6 linked regions of the Homo sapiens genome follow. The protein of the gene in region 1 interacts with the protein of each later gene in a pairwise test. Each region holds a gene or a part of one and is shown in the gene's direction. Other genes may lie near its edges.

Region 1 (2,517 bases):
AGGTTCCGTGTCTTTCACTTCCTCTTAGTAACTCATTATTATTGCCTGATTCTCATGTGTTCTTTATCGCATTCCCAGACTTACTGACCACAAAACATTTAAAACATTTTACCAACAAGAACTTGTGGGGTTTATTGTCTGCTGAAAGGCAACTGCCAAAAAAGGAAAAAGAAAAAAAAAAAAGGAATGTCTCAAAGAACCATTAGGAAAAGGATCAAGATTTGTCTGGTGTGTGTGTTTGGTGTGTCTGATAGAAATGCAACATGAGGCACACATTTAATTTTAAGTTTTAAATGTCCTAGTAGCCTCCTTGAAGAAATGAAGAGAGACAAGTAAAAGTAAAATTAATTTTAATAATGTATTTTGCTTAACTCAGTATAGCCAAACTATTAATCATTTCGACATGTAATCAATATAAAAATTATTGAGATATTCTACCTGCTTTTTTTTTCATATTCAGCCTTCAGATAGGTTGTGTGTTTTCACCTGCAGACTGGTTGAATTTGGGCTAATGCCATTTTAAGTGCTCAGCAGCCATACGTGGCTCGTGGCTGTGATATTCGGGAGTACAGCTCAGCTCTGGAACCACCTATCAGAAAGAGAAGCCCAGCCGTAGCCCATTAGATAGAGTGAAATTTTTGTTTTATTTTATTAAGAGCAAAATATTGGCCAGGTGCAGTGGCTCACATCTGTAATCCCAACGCTTTAGGAGGCTGAGGCAGGAGGGATCACTTGAAGCCTGGAGTTTGAGACCAGCCTGGTCAACATTGCAAGACCCCGTCTCTACAAAAAATAACTTAAAAAGTTAGCGGGGCCGGTGGTGCTCACCTATCTATAGCCCCAGCTACCCAGGAGGCTGAGGCGGGAGGATCGCTTGATCCCAGGAGTTAGAAGCTGCAGTGAGTCGAGATTGTGTCACTGCACTTCAGCCTGGGGGACCAAGCCAGACCCTGTCTGCAAACAAAAACAAAAACAAAAAAACCAAAAAAGCAAAATATTGCCAACCTGACTTTTTGGATCCTCTTGGCAAAACACAGATCAGCGTCCCCAGAGGCAGCAGAGCTCTGAGTGAAGCAGTCGGGGGGATGCTCTGCCTGCCTTCCGCTCACCAGCCCTTCCCTGTCGTCCCCCGCAGGTCTGGTTCCAGAACGCCCGAGCCAAGTTCAGGCGCAACCTCTTACGGCAGGAAAACACGGGCGTGGACAAGTCGACAGACGCGGCGCTGCAGACAGGGACGCCATCGGGCCCGGCCTCGGAGCTCTCCAACGCCTCGCTCAGCCCCTCCAGCACGCCCACCACCCTGACAGACTTGACTAGCCCCACCCTGCCAACTGTGACGTCCGTCTTAACTTCTGTGCCTGGCAACCTGGAGGGCCATGAGCCTCACAGCCCCTCACAAACGACTCTTACCAACCTTTTCTAATGACTCGCAACCCCTCACCCCACAATTTCTTTAAAAAAGAAATTATCTTTAGTTGAATTCCAAGTGTATTTTAAAATAGAGGCTTTGAGCAACTAACTAACCACATTTTAGGATCTCGCCTGGAAACAGAGGTAAAAAAAAGAAGTGTGCGCCCGGCTAATGCAGCGGTGTGGACCGAGGAACAACTTGGAAGATCTACCTGCAACACAACATTTGTGTCACTGTACAGTTTTGTGGACTGAGCGAGGAAAAACAACAAATAATTTAAGTTGGCTAGAGCTTCTGTATTTTCAAAGACTGCCACGTGCCTTAGGAATACTGTTTTATCTCCATACTTTGGATGACTTGTTCATTTTTCTCTCCCTCTTTTTCTCTGTATATTTATGACCAGAGCAAAAATGTAAAAAACAAAAAAAACAACAAAAAAAGTTTGTTACTTTGAATAGTCCTAAAAAGAAAAAAAGAAAAAAAAAAAAGGAAAAATCAAACCCCCTCCAACGGTCGCTTTGTTGTTTTAGAATTTTAAGGTGGAAGTCTGTTCGAATATCAGAATTTGTAAAATCTAACCAGTAATAAAACCACTTATTGAAACTACTTGGGGCTGCTGCCATTTGGTTGGGTGTGAAATTGACAGGACCTAAGAGTTTTACTGAGGCCCAGAGATCAATTCTAGGTCTTCACATATTCATCAGATATTCCTGGGGCTCCTGTCTTGTGCCAGGCTTTGGACGGATTACAGAGATGCCGAGACAAAGATCCAATTCCTGCTCTCAAGGAATCAGAATGGTGACACGGGACAGACAAAAGATATCTTAACAGGGTGTGATATGTGCTCAAGTGGAGGATATGCAACATCCCATTCATTCATTCATTCATTATTCATTCATTCATTCTTTCAAATATTTAATGAGCACACCCTGCCAGATGCTTGTGATGCAGAGGTCAGAGGCCCTTTTCTGCTCCTGGCTGGGCTGGAAAGAAGGCATGTCAGGCGATGAGGGAGGCCTCCTGAAAAACCTGCAGCTTTTCCCTACGAGGAGTGAACGCAGTTAACAAAGGGCAGCTTAAGCTCCAGTTTTCCTAATGACACAAAA
Region 2 (3,500 bases), on another chromosome or scaffold:
ACCTCAAGTGATCCACCCGCCTCGGACTCCTAAAGTGCTGGGATTACAGGCATGAGCCACCACGCCCAGCTGGCATCTGGGAACTTGACTGGTAAAGAGCTCCTATGTGGATACAATACTATCCCCAAATAACAACTGCTCACTCTTTTCTATACAAATCATGTGATATTTGCTGAACACTTGCTTTTCTTCTGAGCCTGGCATTTCGGTGACCATATTCAGTCACGCAGGCACAACGTACCTACATGAGCAACCCCCAGTGAAAACCCTGGACTCCTGGGCTCAGGCAGGCTTCCCTGGTAGAGAACACTTTGCACATGTCACAGCTCGAGGCTGGAGGATTCAGCACATTCTGCGGGAGGGGACCCCAGGGGAGGGGACTCTGGGGGCTTGTACCTGGTTTCCTCCGGCCCTCACCCCAAATGCATCTTCCTGTTACTAATTCTGCGTCGCATCTTTTCACCGTAGTAAATCCCAGCCACTAGTATGATGGTAGGCTAAGTCCTGTGAGTCCCTCAAGTGCAGTCACCAAGCCTAGTGTGTGATGGGGATGCCTGCATACCAGATCAGTAGAGAAAAGGACAAAAACCGTGTGATCACTGAATAGACACAAAACATTTGACAACCTCCAACACGCTTTCATGATAAAAACATTCAACAAACTAGGAATAAAAGGAGTTTCTTCAGCCTGATCAAGAGCATCCGTGAAAACCCCCACAAGCAGGCCAGGCGCGGGGGTTCACGCCTGTAATCCCAGTACTTTGGGAGGCCGAGGTGGGCGGATGACCTGAGGTCAGGCGTTCGAGACCAGCCTGGCCAACATAGTGAAACTCTGTCTCTACTCAAAATACAAAAAATTAGCCAGGCGTGGTGGCGAGCACCCGTAATCCCAGCTACTTGGAAGGCTGAGGCAGGAGAATCACTTGAACCCGGGAGGTGGAGGTTGCAGTGAGCCAAGATCACGACATTGCACTCCAGCCTGGGCAACATAGTGAGATCCCGTCTCTACAAAAAAATTTAAAAATTAGCTGTGTGTGGTGGTACATGCCCAGCTACTTCGGAGGCTGAGATGGAAGTGTCACCTGAGCCTGGGAGGTTGAGGCTGCAGTGAGCTGTGATCATGCATCTACACTCCAGCCCAGCGGACGGAGAGAGAACCTGTCTCAGAAATAAAAGTAGAGCACGACAGCTCCCACCTGTCATCCCAGCACTCTGGGAGGCTGAGGCGGGCGGATCACCTGAGGTCAGGAATTCCAGACCAGCCTGGGGAACATGGAGAAACTCCGTCTCTACTAAAAATACAATAGCCAGGCTTGGCTACAGGTACAGCGCACCTGTAATCCCAGCTACTTGGGAGGCTGAGGCAGGAGAATCGCTTGAAACTGGGAGGTGGAGGTTGTGGTGAGCCGAGATTGTGCCATTGCACTCCATCCAGCCTGGGTGACAAGAGTGAAACTCCATCTCAAAAAAAAAAAAAAAAAGATCACATACAATTATGTATAGTACCTAATATTTGATAATGATAATAAATATGTTATTAGATTATTTACTATACTTTTTATCATTACTTTAGAATATACTCCTACTTATTTAAAAAGTCAACTGTAGGCCAGCCACAGCATTGGCTCACACCTATAATCCCAGCACTTTGGTAGGCTGAGGCAGGCAGATCCCCTGAGGTCAGGAGTTCCAGACCAGCTTGGGAAACATGGTGAAACCCCGTCTCTACTAAAAATACAAAAATTAGCTAGGCATGGTGGCGCCAGCCTGTAATCCCAGCTACTTGGGAGGCTGAGGCGTGAGAATCGCTTAACCTGGGAGGTGGAGGTTGCAGTGAGCTGAGATGGTGCCACTGCCCTCCAGCCTGGGCAACAGAGTGAGACTCTGTATCAAAAAAAAAAAAAAATTTTTTTTAACTGTAAAACGGCCTCAGGCAGGTCCTTCAAGACTTTTTGGAGGTATCCAAAAGAAGGCACTGTCGTCATAGGAGATGACAGCTCTAAATGTATTATTGTCCCTGAAGACCTTCCAGTGGGACAAGATGTGGAGGTCGAAGATGGTGACATGGATGACCCTGACCCTGTGCAGGCCTAGGATAGTGTGTGTCTTAGTTTTTAAGCAAAAAATTCAAATCCTTGGCCGGGCATGGTGGCTCACACCTGTAATCCCAGCACTTTGGGAGGCTGAGGTGGGTGGATCACTTGAGGTCAGGAGTTCAAAACCAGCCTGGCCAACGTGAAGAAACTCCATCTCTACTACTAAAAATACAAAAATTAGCCAGGTACAGTGGCTCACGCCTGTAATCCCAGCACTTTGGGAGGCCGAGGCAGGCGGATCACGAGGTCAGGAGATCAAGACCGTCCGGGCTAACACGGTAAAATCCCGTCTCTACTAAAAATACAAAAATCAGCTGGGCGTGGTGGCGTGTGCCTGTAATCCCAGCTACTCGGGAGGCTGGGGTAGGAGAATTGCTTGAACCAGGGAGTTGGAGGTTGCAGTGAGCCGACATTCATGCCACTGCATTCCAGCCTGGTGGCAGAGCGAGACTCCATCTCAAAAAAAAAAAAAAAAAAAAATTAGCCAGGCATGGTGGCACACACCTGTAATCCCAGCTACTTGGGAAGCTGAGGCTGCAGTGCACTGAGATCGTGGCAGTGCACCGAGATCGTGCCACTGCTCTCCAGCCTGGAAGACTACATCTCAAAAAAAAAAAAAAAAATACTGTCTCAAAAAATTAAAGTCCAACTTAAAAATTTTAAAATCCTTAAAAATAAAAGCTTATAGAGGCCGGGTGCGGTGGCTCATGCCTGTAATCCCAGCACTTTGGGAGGCCAAGGTGGGCAGATCATGAGATCAGGAGATCAAGACCATCCTGGCTAACATGGTGAAATCCCATCTCTACTAAAAATACAAAAAATTAGCCGAGCGTGGTGGCAGGTGCCTGTAGTCCCAGTTACTCGGGAGGCTGAGGCAGGAGAATGGCGTGAACCCGGGAGGCAGAGCTTGCAGTGAGCCGAGATTGCGACACTGCACTCCAGCCTGGGCAACAGAGCGAGACTCCATGTCAAAAAATAAATAAATAAAAGCTTGTAGAATGAGGTTCTAAAGAAAATATTTTTGTACAGCTGTACAATGTATTTGTGTTTTAAACTGAGTGTAATTAAAAAAAGCAAAAAGTTTAAACATCAAGTTACAGTAAGCTTAGGTTAATTTATTACTGAAGAAAGTGTTTAAAAATGAGTGTAGCCTGAGTGTTGAGTGTTGTATACTAAGTGTGCAGGACATACACTAATGCTTTAGGCCTCCACGTTCACTCACCCACCCACAGCAACTTCCCACCCTGCAAGCTCCATTCATAATTCATGCCCTGTATAGGTGGGCTGTACTTTTTTTTTTTTTTTTTTTTTTTGAGATGGAGTCTCGTTCTGTCCCCCAGGCTGGACTGCAGTGGTGAGATCTCGGCTCACTGCAACCTCCGCCTCCCAGGTTCAAGCGATTCT
Region 3 (3,500 bases), on another chromosome or scaffold:
AAGGCAGGAAACCCATGCCTGGGCCAGCCCTGCTGTAACATCTCTTGAGTCAGCAGCATGTCATGAACTGCAGGAAGCAGACCTCAGTGAGAGTTTATCATATCCCAGAATTGTCTCCTCAAGTTCATTACAGCAGTATGTCGCACAAGGTGGCTCATTTCCTTGTTTCGGTATGCCATGGAACTTTATCAGTGGAGGTGCTGAAAGTACCAATGCTGTCATCTCATTTGCCAATGCTACTACAGCAGTACCTATGGCAGTTCTGTCACGAAGAGAATCCAGTCTGGCAAATAACCCTGGTGTGGTGAATTACTCTGCTCTACCAGAAAATGAAAATGTGGGCCCAGGTAGAGCCTTGTCATCTTTCTGCTTCCATCCCAATTTGGGTGAGTTTGAAATGACACATATTACAGATAGCATTCTTCAATCTAGATTTTAAAACACCCTTCATGCAAATTAGTGTTAGTTATTTTTTAAATTAAAAGTTTTATCTTGAAGCCATTATAGATTCATATGTAGTTGTAAGAAATAATACAGAGAGATACCCTTTCCCCAATTTTCCCCAGTGGTAACATCTCATAAGACTGTAGTTTGTATTCATTTGTGTGTCTGACTTTCGGCTTTTTTTTTTAAAACAATTTTATCAGATGAGAAAGTTTGTATGTTCCTACCATAGTCAAGATACAGAACCGTTCTATCACCAGAAAGTTTGCTTGTCTTGCCTTTCTATAACCAAACCCATCCTCCTTTTCCTTCCCCCACTTACCTATTCCTAACCTTTGGCAAGTGTGATCTCTTCTCCATCTCTATAATTTTGTCACTTCAATATTGTTATATAATTGGATGCATATAGTATGTAACCTTTTGGTACTGGCTTTTTTTTACTCAACATAATCCCCTGGAGACTCAACCAAGTTGTGTGTTTCAGTAGTTCCTTTATTGCCAAGTACTATTCCATGGTATAGGTGTGCCATGGTTTAACCATTCATCTATTGAAGGAAATTATTTTTCCAGTTTTTGACTATTAGTAGTAAGGCTGCTATGAAAATTCATATACAAGTTTTTGTGTAAATGGAAGTTTTCATTTCTCTGACATGATTACCCAAGAGTGCAACTGCTGGTTATATATTAATTGCATGTTTAGGTTTTTTTAAAAAAACAAATCTTTATTGAGATATTAATGTCTTGGTCTGTTTGTGTTACTATAACAAAATACCATAGACTGGGTGATTGAAAAAGAACAGAAATGTAGTTTCTCACAGCTCCAGAGGCTGGGAAGTTCAAAAGCAAGGTGCCAGCCGGTTTGTGTGGTGAGGGCTGCATCCTCTGCAAGAGAGGAGCACTGTGTCCTCACATGGCAGAAGGTAGAAGGACAAGATTTCAAAATGCCGTGTGAAGCCTCTTTTATAAGGGCCTCCATCCCATTCATGAGGGAGGAGCCCTCATAGCTTAATCATCTTAAAGGTCCCATTTCTTAATACGATCACATTGGCAACACCTGAATTTTGGAAAGGATACCTTCAAACCATAGTAATTGATAAGTAAAAAACTGCACATATTTATTATACCCAATGTAATGAGTTTGGACATATGCATGTTTAGTTTTATGAGAAACTGCCTAACTATTTTCCAGGGGCGCTGTATCATCTGACATTCTTGCCAGCTATATATGGGTGATCTACTTTCTCTAAATGCATATTTCTGCTCTTTCTTTTGTTCTTTCTTCCTGATGCTCCAAGATTCCTTCTTTCATCATCTTCTTTTTTTGATTGAGGAGTTTTCTTTAACCTTTCTTTAAGGGTAAGTCTGCTGGGGACAAATTCTTTTTGTTTTCCTTTGTGTGTGAATGTCTGTTTCTCTTTCTTTCTTGAAGGATAATTTTGCTTTGTATAGAATTTGTGGGTGAAGTTCTTGTATTACAGCTCTTGAAAACTTTTTATTTACAGAAATGCCAGAAAGACCAGCAAACAGCAGTAAAAACAGCACTGAGACAGCGAATTATCCAACTTTAATGGGAAATTACAATGGCCAAAATACTGCCTCTTTATCTGTCTTCATCCCTCCCTATTTTGGTGAGTTTGAAATGATACATAATGCTGGGCGTGGTGGCTCACACTTGTAATCCCAGCACTTTGGGAGGGTGAGGCGGGTGCATCACCTGACATCAGAAGTTTGAGACCAGCCTGACCAACATGGTGAAAACCCGTCTCTACTAAAAATACAAAAAATTAGCCGGGTGTGGTGGCGGGCACCTGTAATCCCAGCTACTCCGGAGGCCGAGGCAGGAGAATCACTTGAACCCAGAGGCAGAGGTTGCAGTGAGCTGGGATCATGCCACTTAACTCCAGCCTGGGCAACAAGAGCGAAACTCCATCTCAAAATAAATAAATACATAAATACATAAAAAAGAAATGATACATATTGCAAATAGCATTATTTAACCTTGATCCACCAGTTTTTTTTTTTTTGTTTTTTTTTTTTTTTTTTTTTGAGATGGAGTTTTGCTCTTGTTGCCCAGGCTGGAGTACAATGGTGCGATCTCGGCTCACTGCAACCTCCGCCTCCTGGGTTCAAGTGATTCTCCTACCTCAGCCTCCCAAGTAGCTGGGATTATAGGCATGCACCACCACGCCTGGCTAATTTTTTTGTATTTTTAGTAGAGACGAGGTTTCTCCATGTTGGTCAGGCTGGTCTCCAACTCTCAACCTCGGGTGATCTGTCCGCCTCTGCCTCCCAAAGTGCTGGGATTATAGGCGTGAGCCACTGCGCCCAGCCTGATTCACCAGTATTTTTAATGTCAGCTAGTGTGACTCTTTTCAAACTAAACTTTTCGGTTTGAGATAATTTTAGATTCACACACAGTTGTAAGAAATAATGCAGAGAACTGTTTATGCTTTAGCCATTTCCCCCAAAGGATGACATCTTTAAAACTATAGTAAAATATCACATCCAAGGTAGTGGCATTGATACACTCCACAGATCTTACTGAGATGTTCCCAGGTTTACTTGTAATTAATTTGTGTGTGTGTATTTAGTTCTTTGCAGTTTTATCACAAGTAGTTTTAATGTCTACCTCCAGTGAAGACATAGAACGTTTCTATCACTGCAATGATGCCTCATCTTGCCCTTTGATAATCACATTCACTTTCCTCATGTCATCCTTTCCTTCCAACCTGCCCCATCCCTAACACCTGGTAACTACTGATCTGTTCTCTGTTTATAATTTTGTCACTTCAAGAATGTTATATTAAGGGAATGTTACAGTATGTAATTTTGGGGTATTGGTGTTTTTCACTCAGTATAGTTATCTGAAAACTCACCCAGCTTGTTGCATGTATCAAGAGTTCCCTCCTTTCTTTTCTTCTTTTTTTTTTTTTTTTTTTTGAGACAGAGTCTTACTCTGTTGCCCAGGCTGGAATGCAGTGGCGCGATCTTGGCTTACTGCAACTTCTGCCTCCCGGGTTCAAGCAATTCTCATGCCTCAGCCTCCTGAATAGCTA
Region 4 (3,500 bases), on another chromosome or scaffold:
CCTAGGGTCTCTGTGCTTGACAGGCAGTTGGGGACTCTTGGGAGCCGCCACCTGGAGCTCAGCCAGACCCCTGGGACGTGTCCTTTTTTTTATTTTTTGAGTTGGAGTTTTGCTCTTGTTGCCCAGGCTGGAGTGCAATGGTGCGATCTTGGCTCACTGCAACCTCCGCCTCCAGAGTTCAAGCAATTCTCCTGCCTCAGCATCCCGAGTAGCTGGGATTACAGGCATGTGCCACCACACCCAACTAATTTTGTACTTTCAGTAGAGATGGGGTTTCTCCATGTTGGTCAGGATGGTCTCGAACTCCCGACGTCAGGCGATCCGCCTGCCTCAGCCTCCCAAAGTGCTGGGATTACAGGCGTGAGCCACCGCGCCCAGCCTTTAGCTGAGCATTTCTGCACAGGAAATATCAGTGTGACTTTGAAGGGTTTCCCCAGAGTAAAATTCTATATCCTTTCTTAGAAACCTCAATGCTTGGGCCTAACAACTTTTAGTTTTAAAATACGGAGTAATTAGCAATGGCTTTGGGGTCAGGAAATTGGGTTCCCACATCAGCTTTGTCCTTAACTATTGATCAAGTCAGATCCCTCGAGATTCCTCCTTTTTTTTCATATCTTTTCGTAAAAATTTCTGTAAAGCTGTAAAGCTCAGCTTGAAAATCTTTTTTTTCTTTTTTCTTTCTTTTTTTTTTTTTTTTTTTGGAGACAAAGTCTTACTCTGTCACCCAGGCTGGAGTGCAGTGGCATGATCTTGGCTCACTGCAACCTCTGCCTCCCGGGTTCAAAAGATTCTCCTGCCTCAGCCTCCCGAGTAGCAGGGATTACAGGCACCTGCCACCACACCCGGCTCATTTTTGTATTTTTAGTAGAGACAGGGTTTCAACATCTTGGCCAGGCTGGTCTTGAACTCCTGACCTCGTGATCCACCCGCCTCAGCCTCCCAAAGTGCTGAGATTATGGGCGTGAGCCACTGCGCCCGGCCAGCTTGAAAATCTTTGACCAGCTGGGTGCAGTGGCTCATACCTATAATCCCAGCACTTTGGGAGGCCAAGGCAGGAGGATCGCTTGAGCCGAGGAGTTCGGGACCAGCCTGGGCAACATAAGAAGATGCCATCTCTACGAAAAAATTTTTTAAATTAGCGGGGCATGGTGATGCACACCTATAATCCCAGCTACTTGGGAGACTAAGGTGGGAGGATCAGTTGAGCTGGGGAAGTTGAGGCTGCAGTGAACCATGATCATGCCATTGCACTCCAGCCTGGGTGACAGAGTGACTCTGTCTCAAAAAAACAAAAAAATTACTATCCTTTGTCATTGTTGTTATTGTTGTTTTTGAGACAGGATCTCACTCTGCCACCCAGGCTGGAGTGCAGTATCATGGCTCACCCCAGCCTAAACCTCCCGGGCTCATACGCTCCCCCAACTTCAGCCTCCTGAGTAGCTGGGACCACGGGTATGCACCACCATACCCAGCTAATTTTTAATTTTTTTTTTTTTTTTAGAGACAAGAGCTCCCTTTGGTTGCCCAGGCTGGTCTCGAACTTCTGGGCTCAAGTGATCCTCCTGCTTTGGCCTCCCAAAGTGCTGGGATTATAGGCATAAGCCACTGTGCCTGTCCTACTATCATTTTTTTTCTAATGACATCGTGCTCCCCTTTTCCCAAAACTGAAGTTTCGCGTACAAATATGCTTTGGCCTAAAAATTCTGGTTCGGTTTTTTCTCTTAATTCGTGGTTCTTTGGTACTGTTCCTTTTATTGTAAACTGCCACAATTATTATTATTATTGGAACTGGCACAATAGAAATAACACCACCATTCTTACCTCAAAGGTAATAACATTCATTAATGATTTCTCATTTGGGCTCCAGTAACACTGTGAGGGGATCAGTGCGTTGACCCTCTATGTGGAAGTTATCATTTTTGCTGCTGATGACAATGAAGCCCTTCACGTGTGTCTTGTTAGTTTCCTTTTGGTTGGTTTTTAGTAAAGATGGAGAAGTGCTCCCTGCTGCCACTTCTTAAACGACCAACGTCCAGGTTTGCTGTCCTGTCTTACTCGTTTGATTTTATAGCTCTGCAGTTTCTATTGAAGTAGACACTCCTAACACAGGGGTAGGTGTAAATGTGATACCTTTGGGAAGAGGCACTTAGTCCCCGAGGTCCTTGGAGTTGCTCCAGCTCTCAAGGAGGAGGCCAAAGGTGCAGCGTCTGGAGCAGCTCTGACTGGGGTGAAAGGTGAGGAGGAGATGACCTGGAGTTAGTGGGTCTCTCGAATAGTGATGGACCCAAGTGAGTGGTTTCCTGTTGCCCTAGGAACAGATGGAAATATTGAAAGGAACTGCTGTCAGCTTGAATTTAGCCTGGGCTGGGGAGGTAGACACCGCTCTCAGCCAAGCTCCTTCCCTTGGCCGGCCTCGGCTGCCCCGGGTACAAAGTGAGACGTCGGCCTAGATGCTTTCTGAGAGGAGTCCCCAGCTGTTACATTCTGTAGGCCCCTATACAGGAGACTGTGCTTGGGATCAGCCTGCTGGGGCTGCAGGGACCCTCCCTGTGCTTTGCAGGTGTTTGTCCCAGAGATGGCAGCGCGGAGGCAACGCGTCCAACTCCTGCACCGTTCTCTCCCTGCTCGGAGCCCCCTGTGCCTTCATGGGCTCAATGGCTCCTGGCCATGTTGCTGAGTAAGTCCAGGAGGGAGAGCCCACTGGGGAAGGCCTGCCTGCATCATTGTGGGAGAAGAAGGATGTATCCACCCTGGGTGGATGGGGGATTAGAAATGGGTTGTGTCCAGCAGAAACGCGGGGAGGGGGCATGGCGGAGCACCAGACGCCCAGCCCTGCCTTGGCGTGGCCTCTCTGCGGTTCGGGGGCTGATGCTGCCCCTGTGAAGCTTTCCTTGCCACAGCTTGTTTCCTGGACACTTCTGGAGCCTGCTTCAGCCTCTTCCTTTCTCCTTCCTTGCTTCCTGCAGACTCTGCGGTGGATGTGCCTTTGCCTTATCTTAAGTCCCTTATCCTGGCCATGCTTGAGGCAGAAGGCAGTTAGGGACACGTGGTACCCATCCTCCCCCAGGTCCAGGCCCACAGTTTCTGTCCCAGTTGAGAGGCAGGGCTGGTGCTCATGTCCCTGTTGTTCACTGAAGCAGTGAGAGTACCCTGTTCAAGGACACCCTGAAGCCACATGCTAAAGCTGGGCTCAGAACCCACACCTCCCAGTTCCCCGGCTGTCAGGGCTATAGCCCTAAATGGCTCATGCACGCCCTCCATGTTGGCTGCTGCAGGGACCTCAGAGCCCTTTGACCCCTGGCGCTGCCGACTCAGCAAGCACTTATCGGGAGGTGAGGCCCACACTTTGCACACTGTGGGCACGGGGGCAGGCTGCCAGGTTGCTGGCCTGTGAAGGGCAGCCCTTTGAACCCTGGTTTGAAGGGGGCTGCTGGCAGAGTCCAACCACCTGAGCTACAGCCAAACTCCCTGCCTTGATGAACTGGCAGGAAGAGAATAGA
Region 5 (2,206 bases), on another chromosome or scaffold:
TCCTGGGGTCTCCAAAGGGCTTGGGGTCGGGGAGTGGGGGAGCAAGACCATCGAGGGCAGGCTTCTTGCCTCCTACAGTCCCAGGTGTCCTTTTTGACGCTTCCTCTTCAAAACCCCTTTTGACCGGCTGTGGTGGCTCTTGCCTTTAATCCCAGCACTTTGGGAGGCCAAGGCAGGCGGATAAGTTGAGGTCAGGAATTTGAGACCAGCCTGGCCAACATGGTGAAACCCCATCTCTACTAAAAATATAAAAGTTAGCCAGGTGTGGTGGCAGGCACCTGTAGTCCCAGCTACTCGAGAGGCTGAGGCAGGGGAATCACTTGAACCCGGGAGGTGAAGGTTGCAGTGAGCTGAGATTGCACCACTGCACTCCAGCCTGGGCGACAGAATGGGACTCTGTCTCAAAAAAAACAAAACTCGCCAGGCACAGTAATCCTATAATCCTGTAATCCCAGCACTTTGGGAGGCCGAGGTGGGTGGATCACGAGGTCAGGAGTTCAAGACTAGCTTGGCCAAGATGGTGAAACCCCATCTGTACTAAAAACACAAAAATTAGCTGGGCGTGGGGGAGGGCACCTGTAATTCCAGCTACTCAGGAGGCTGAGGCAGAGAATTGCTTGAACCTGGGAGGCAGAGGTTGCAGTGAGCTGAGACTGTGCCACTGCACTCCAGTCTGGGTGAGACTGTGTCTCAAAAAACAAACAAACAAACAAATAAACAAACAAACAAACCATTTCACTGAAGACCAGTGCATTCCAGTCCTGCCTGAAACCTTCTATTTGCACCCTGGGCCACACAACTGAGCTGGGCACGGGGTTGAAAGGAGGTGGTCTCCTGGCTTCTGAACACCCTTGAGTAAGGCAGTTGGCCTTCAGCCTCCATTTACACATCTGTCCAGTGGGGTCTTGTCCAGTCCAAGTCCTCCTGGGCATGATGTGAGGGTTTGAGGAGAGGACATTGGTAACAGCGTCTTTCAAATGCCAGCTCCACCATCCCTCTCTCCCCTGCAGAGAACACAAACGCTTCAGGAGAAATTCAAGCCTGTGTCACCCGATCGCTCAGACCAGTGCGGCTCTGGCTGGAGGAGTCAGCAGCAGCTCCAGGCATGACCCCGGCACCCTCATAGGGCCCCTCACTACCCCCAGCACTGGGTCATTTCTTGCCAATAGGAAGGCTGGTGCTTCTCTCCCAGGCTGTCCTCGGGACCCTCTTCATTCTCTGATCTCATCCTGGAATGCATGAGAATAAAGAATAACCAAGTGGTATAAGCCTGGGCCTATGGGATAAGGATGGGGCACTCGAGGGGGCTCAGCAGGGCTTTCAGGTTTAGAAGAGGGAAGACCTGCCTTGGCTGGGCTGCCTGGGTTTAGCTTGGGGGAGTAAGGGCAGGTCTTAGGCCGGGTGCAGTGGCTCATTCCTGTAATCCCAGAACTTGGGAGGCCAAGGTAAGAGGACTGCCTGAGGCCAGGAGTTCGAGACCAGCTTAGGCAACATAGCAAGACCCTGACTCTACAAAAAAAAATTTTAAAATATAAAAGAAAGGAAAAGAAAAAGAGAAAGAAATGGCAGGTCCCCTGTGAGATAACCCAGATGACCCAGAGAGAAGGCCTGTATCCTGCCACACTGGCTGCCAAGATTGGAGATCATAAAATTTCCTGACCACTTCTCAGCCTAACACAGGGCTCTCAACCTTGAAATCCCATGGAAACTTTGCAAAGCTGTGGAAGCCCAGGTCCCATGCCCAGAGATTCACAGGTTCACATCTAATTCATCTGGGGTGAGGCCTGAGCTTTCAGAAAATTCCCCAGGTGATTTTTTTTTTTTAAGACGTAGTCTCCCTCTATTGCCCAGGCTGGAATGCAGTGGCGCGATCTCAGCTCACTGCAACCTCTGCCTCCCATGTTCAAGCGATTCTCCTACCTCAGCCTCCTGAGTAGCTGGGATTACAGGCGCATGCCACTGAGCCCAGCTAATTTTTGTATTTTTAGTAGAGATGGGGTATCACCATGTTGGTCAGGCTGGTCTTGAACTCCTGACCTCGTGATCTGCCCCGCTCAGTCTCCTAAAGTGCTGGGATTACAGGTGTGAGCCATCGAGCCTGGCCTTTTTTTTTTTTTTTTTTTTTTTTTTGAGACAGAGTCTTGCTCTGTCACCCAGGCTGGAGTGCAGTGGCACAATCTCGGCTCACTGCAACCTCGCCTCCCTG
Region 6 (3,500 bases), on another chromosome or scaffold:
CCAGCAACTGGAGAAGAGAAAGCAAATGGCTATGAATACCCACTACAAGAACTGGCAGAAGATCAAGGGGAGCAAAGACAGCAAATATGCTATTAAATTAGGCATGGTTAGAAATCGTGGCTGGTTGGAAGCTGATCCAGGCAAAGCTGGTATATTGAAAACTAGGGAAGTTTGGGGGCCAGAGGTCAGAGGTCCAATGACAGGTAGAGAACAGACGCTTTAGGAGTTCAAGAAGAAGGGGGAGATGTAATGAGGTAATCAAGACCAAGTCAATGTGAAACAGTCCGAAGTCCCAAAGCTGGGCTATACCTATGGGCCCCAAGGTGAGTACAGATGGCTCCTAATCTGAAGATTCTCCACTGTGCTATTACATGTAATCCCAAACCAAACTTATAAGAATACTGGCCTTCCCTGGCATTTGAGTTTTATTCTGCCTCTTTAAAAGGGCTACTCAGAATAAATCAGTCTCCTTTGCAGAGTCAGGAGAAGGGAAACCAGCCTCTCTGTGCAGTGTTAGCATGATGAGCTAAGAGTTCAGAAATGACTGTAAATGAAAAATGGTGATAATGATAGCAGCTATCATTTACTGAATGCTTCCCACGGGCCAGCTGCCATGCTGATTTCCTTTATGTTGATTATGTCATTGTATATCTTGTGACAGATCTTCAGGGTAGGGGCTATTTTTGTCCCTGTTTCAGAGCTGAGGAAGAAAAGGTTAGGTATTGGAGCTGAGACTTAAACCCTAGTGTGACTGAATCCAAAGCCTGTACTTTTAACCATGAGGCTAAAACCATTTCATCAAAAGCCTTTCTGCTATTCATGTTCTTAACATCATAGAACTGGTAGGGACTATAGAGAGGTCCTTTAATCACAGATTCAAACTAGCCTAAATCCCAAAGCCCTGGAGAATGCATCCCAGGCATTCATTTTTTGAAAGAGACCTAGAGAGGAAAAGTCACGGGGCTGGAACTAAAACATGGGCTTCTTGAATCCCTGTCTAGCTCTTATTCTATTTCTCAGGTTGCCGTGGACCAAAATGAACTCTCAGTCTATTTGTCTTATCAAATTGCAGTCTTCAGCAAGTGTCTGAATAACTTGGTCAGGACCTTCCTTCCAGGAAGAGCCTGGTGACCCTCTGAAAGCAGCCATGTACTTGGGAGTTCTCCTGCACACCCATGGTTTTTGATGCTCACTATAGTGACTAGGCAGCTGGAGGATTCCAATCCTAATGATACGGAGAACACAAAACAATATGAGACACTGGGTCCCCCAGCCTTCTTCTCTGGGCCTGAGGGGAGATTTGAATTAGCAACTCCTCACATGAGCTGCATTCTTTAGCCTTAATTTAAGTGGGCAGAGGTGAATGAAAATGTGTAAATGTTGAAGTGTTATTATTCAAAAGCCCTTGAGATCCCATAGCTCATCGTAGTAATTAAAATGCAGCACAGAAGACCCCTTGCTTCAGTAGCTCACAGGGTATAAGGAAAATGAATGAGGATCACAAGTTGATGGGATTGGGAATTAGCATGCTGGTGTGCCATATTGAGTAGAACAGCTGGCCTCGATGTATGGGTAGCATAAGAAACAGGCCTCCCTCCCTGTGTGCCACTATCTCCTTGTTTCTCTCCTAGAAGGGCAGACTGTGGGGAGGGCAGAGCTCGGGGAACATGGGAAGTAGTGTAGGAGAAAGGCCTAAGGGTCTCTTCTGCAACTTCACTAGTCCCTGGGCGTGAGGTTTGTTGCCCAGGGTGGTCTCTAACTCCTGAGCTCAAGTGATCCTCCTCTCTCAGCCTCCCAAAGTGCTGGGATTACAGGCATGTACTGCCACACCTGGCCCTTCTCTGCCTTTTCTAATGTATTTTTACTTCTCTGTAAGCCTGACAAGGTCTTATTTCTCCTTCAGTGCTCAGCTCGAAAGCTACCTCTTCTGAGAAGCCTTCTGGTTCGAAGTAATCAGGCTTTCCTTTTTGTCTGCCAAGCATATGATTTATGCCTGTCTTAAAGCATCTATTGAGGCAGACTTGGTGTCTTTATTTTTTTTATTTTTTATTTTTTGGTGAGACAAGGTCTCGCTGTGTCTCCCAGGCTGGAGTGCAGTGGCATGATCACAGCTCACTGCAGCCTTGAATTCCTGGACTCAAATTATCCTCCCATCTCAACCTCCCAAGTAGCTGGGACAGCAGGTGTGCACCACCACACCCAGCTAATTTTTAAATTGTTTATAGAGATGAGGTCTCGCCATGTTGCCCAAGCTGATCTTGAACTCCTGAGCTCAAGCAATCCTCCCACCACAGGCTCCCAAAGCGTTGGGATTACAGGCGTGAGCCACCACACCCGGCCTCTTTATCCTCATATCCACCTGGGTGCCTCCTGAGGACAGACACTTCATACATTTGTCCATGGGATGAGTGGTTACAGTGACAGTTCTGGGGCCTGTCTCAGAGTTTCTCACTTCAGCCCTCTCACCATATTACCTTCTGTCCCTTCCTTCTGCTGTTCAGAGTTATAAGGATGGTGAAGGTAATGAATGCTTGTGAAGTGCTTTATATCTTACAGAGTACTTTCATGTACCTTATCTTTGATGATCCTTGTGACAGACCTGTGAGGAACGGAGAAGTAGTTGGTCTCATCTGTGAGCAAAGTGTGTTGTAACGGACCCTGTGTGGAGGATAATAACAATTTCAACATCTATTGAGAGCGTGGCATGTGCTAGACACGGTTCTTAATGCATTACACGTATAATTTAATTACCGCAACAATCCCCCAATTAAGATCCCAGAATTGCACAAAGAAGTGATTTGCTTAAAAACTGCTTCTTGATCAGTATATTCTATTGTTAGCACCTTGTCCCTAAGAGACCTTATATTATCCTTACTTTGCAGAAGGAAGAAACCATTGAGTAATTCTTTTCCCACCCATTGATCTGCCAAAAAAAACTCATCTTGGCCTTGGATGTAGTTTTTAATGGGAACAAGAACACCAGCCTTAGGGTCTTGGATCTCGGCAAGCTTTTCAGATACCAAAGTGTCTTTCTTAGGAATTGCCTGGCTAAGTCATATGATTATAAGAATTTCTTTCCATCATTTCTTATATTCCACAAAATATTGGTGGATTGTGGTTTCTCTAATAGGATTATGACCCTCAGAGATTCTTCCTCCACATATTTCCTTCCTCCGTAAGTTTCCATTCTTTCCTTCTACCCACTTCCTTCCCCTTGGCATGTGTCTGGTATTGAGCCCTTGGCATCTGTCTCTCTTTCATCATTGATAGCTAGCATGAATGGGTGGCTGTTTCACAGGGCCTGCATTGTTGGCTCCCACAGCAGCAGTTAGAACATTCTCTGTGGCCTGGGTTCTGAGGTCCACCCAGGCAGTGTGAGCCAGGCTGGCCCCCAGTTCTGAGCTGTGGTGTTTCCTTTCATTGTTGGTGCCTTAGCTCCCAGTTGTTAAATATGAAGCTGGAAGTTGATACAAAGCAGTAGAAGCCTGTGCTCCTTTTAC

Evidence for each region.
Region 2: the proteins of LHX2 (region 1) and FLYWCH1 interact in binary tests that used the Homo sapiens proteins (3 or more experiments, as listed by UniProt).
Region 3: the proteins of LHX2 (region 1) and BEND2 interact in binary tests that used the Homo sapiens proteins (3 or more experiments, as listed by UniProt).
Region 4: the proteins of LHX2 (region 1) and KHK interact in binary tests that used the Homo sapiens proteins (3 or more experiments, as listed by UniProt).
Region 5: the proteins of LHX2 (region 1) and MORN3 interact in binary tests that used the Homo sapiens proteins (3 or more experiments, as listed by UniProt).
Region 6: the proteins of LHX2 (region 1) and ANKS1A interact in a two-hybrid assay, tested with the Homo sapiens proteins (one large-scale study listed by BioGRID).

The regions. Positions count from the first base shown.
Region 1 is NC_000009.12:124,031,285-124,033,801, forward strand, and holds the end of LHX2 (LIM/homeobox protein Lhx2), read left to right. Parts: intron 1-1,135; coding exon 1,136-1,423; 3' UTR 1,424-2,017; downstream 2,018-2,517. UniProt on the Homo sapiens protein: Acts as a transcriptional activator. Stimulates the promoter of the alpha-glycoprotein gene. Transcriptional regulatory protein involved in the control of cell differentiation in developing lymphoid and neural cell types.
Region 2 is NC_000016.10:2,942,931-2,946,430, forward strand, and holds part of FLYWCH1 (FLYWCH-type zinc finger-containing protein 1), read left to right. Parts: intron 1-396; exon of another isoform or gene 397-554; intron 555-3,500. UniProt on the Homo sapiens protein: Transcription cofactor. Negatively regulates transcription activation by catenin beta-1 CTNNB1, perhaps acting by competing with TCF4 for CTNNB1 binding. May play a role in DNA-damage response signaling.
Region 3 is NC_000023.11:18,200,387-18,203,886, reverse strand, and holds part of BEND2 (BEN domain-containing protein 2), read left to right. Parts: coding exon 1-386; intron 387-1,946; coding exon 1,947-2,072; intron 2,073-3,500.
Region 4 is NC_000002.12:27,089,772-27,093,271, forward strand, and holds part of KHK (ketohexokinase), read left to right. Parts: intron 1-2,560; coding exon 2,561-2,677; intron 2,678-3,500. UniProt on the Homo sapiens protein: Catalyzes the phosphorylation of the ketose sugar fructose to fructose-1-phosphate.
Region 5 is NC_000012.12:121,650,449-121,652,654, reverse strand, and holds part of MORN3 (MORN repeat-containing protein 3), read left to right. Parts: intron 1-1,010; 3' UTR 1,011-2,206. UniProt on the Homo sapiens protein: Assembles a suppression complex (suppresome) by tethering SIRT1 and MDM2 to regulate composite modifications of p53/TP53.
Region 6 is NC_000006.12:35,011,255-35,014,754, forward strand, and holds part of ANKS1A (ankyrin repeat and SAM domain-containing protein 1A), read left to right. Parts: intron 1-3,500. UniProt on the Homo sapiens protein: Regulator of different signaling pathways. Regulates EPHA8 receptor tyrosine kinase signaling to control cell migration and neurite retraction.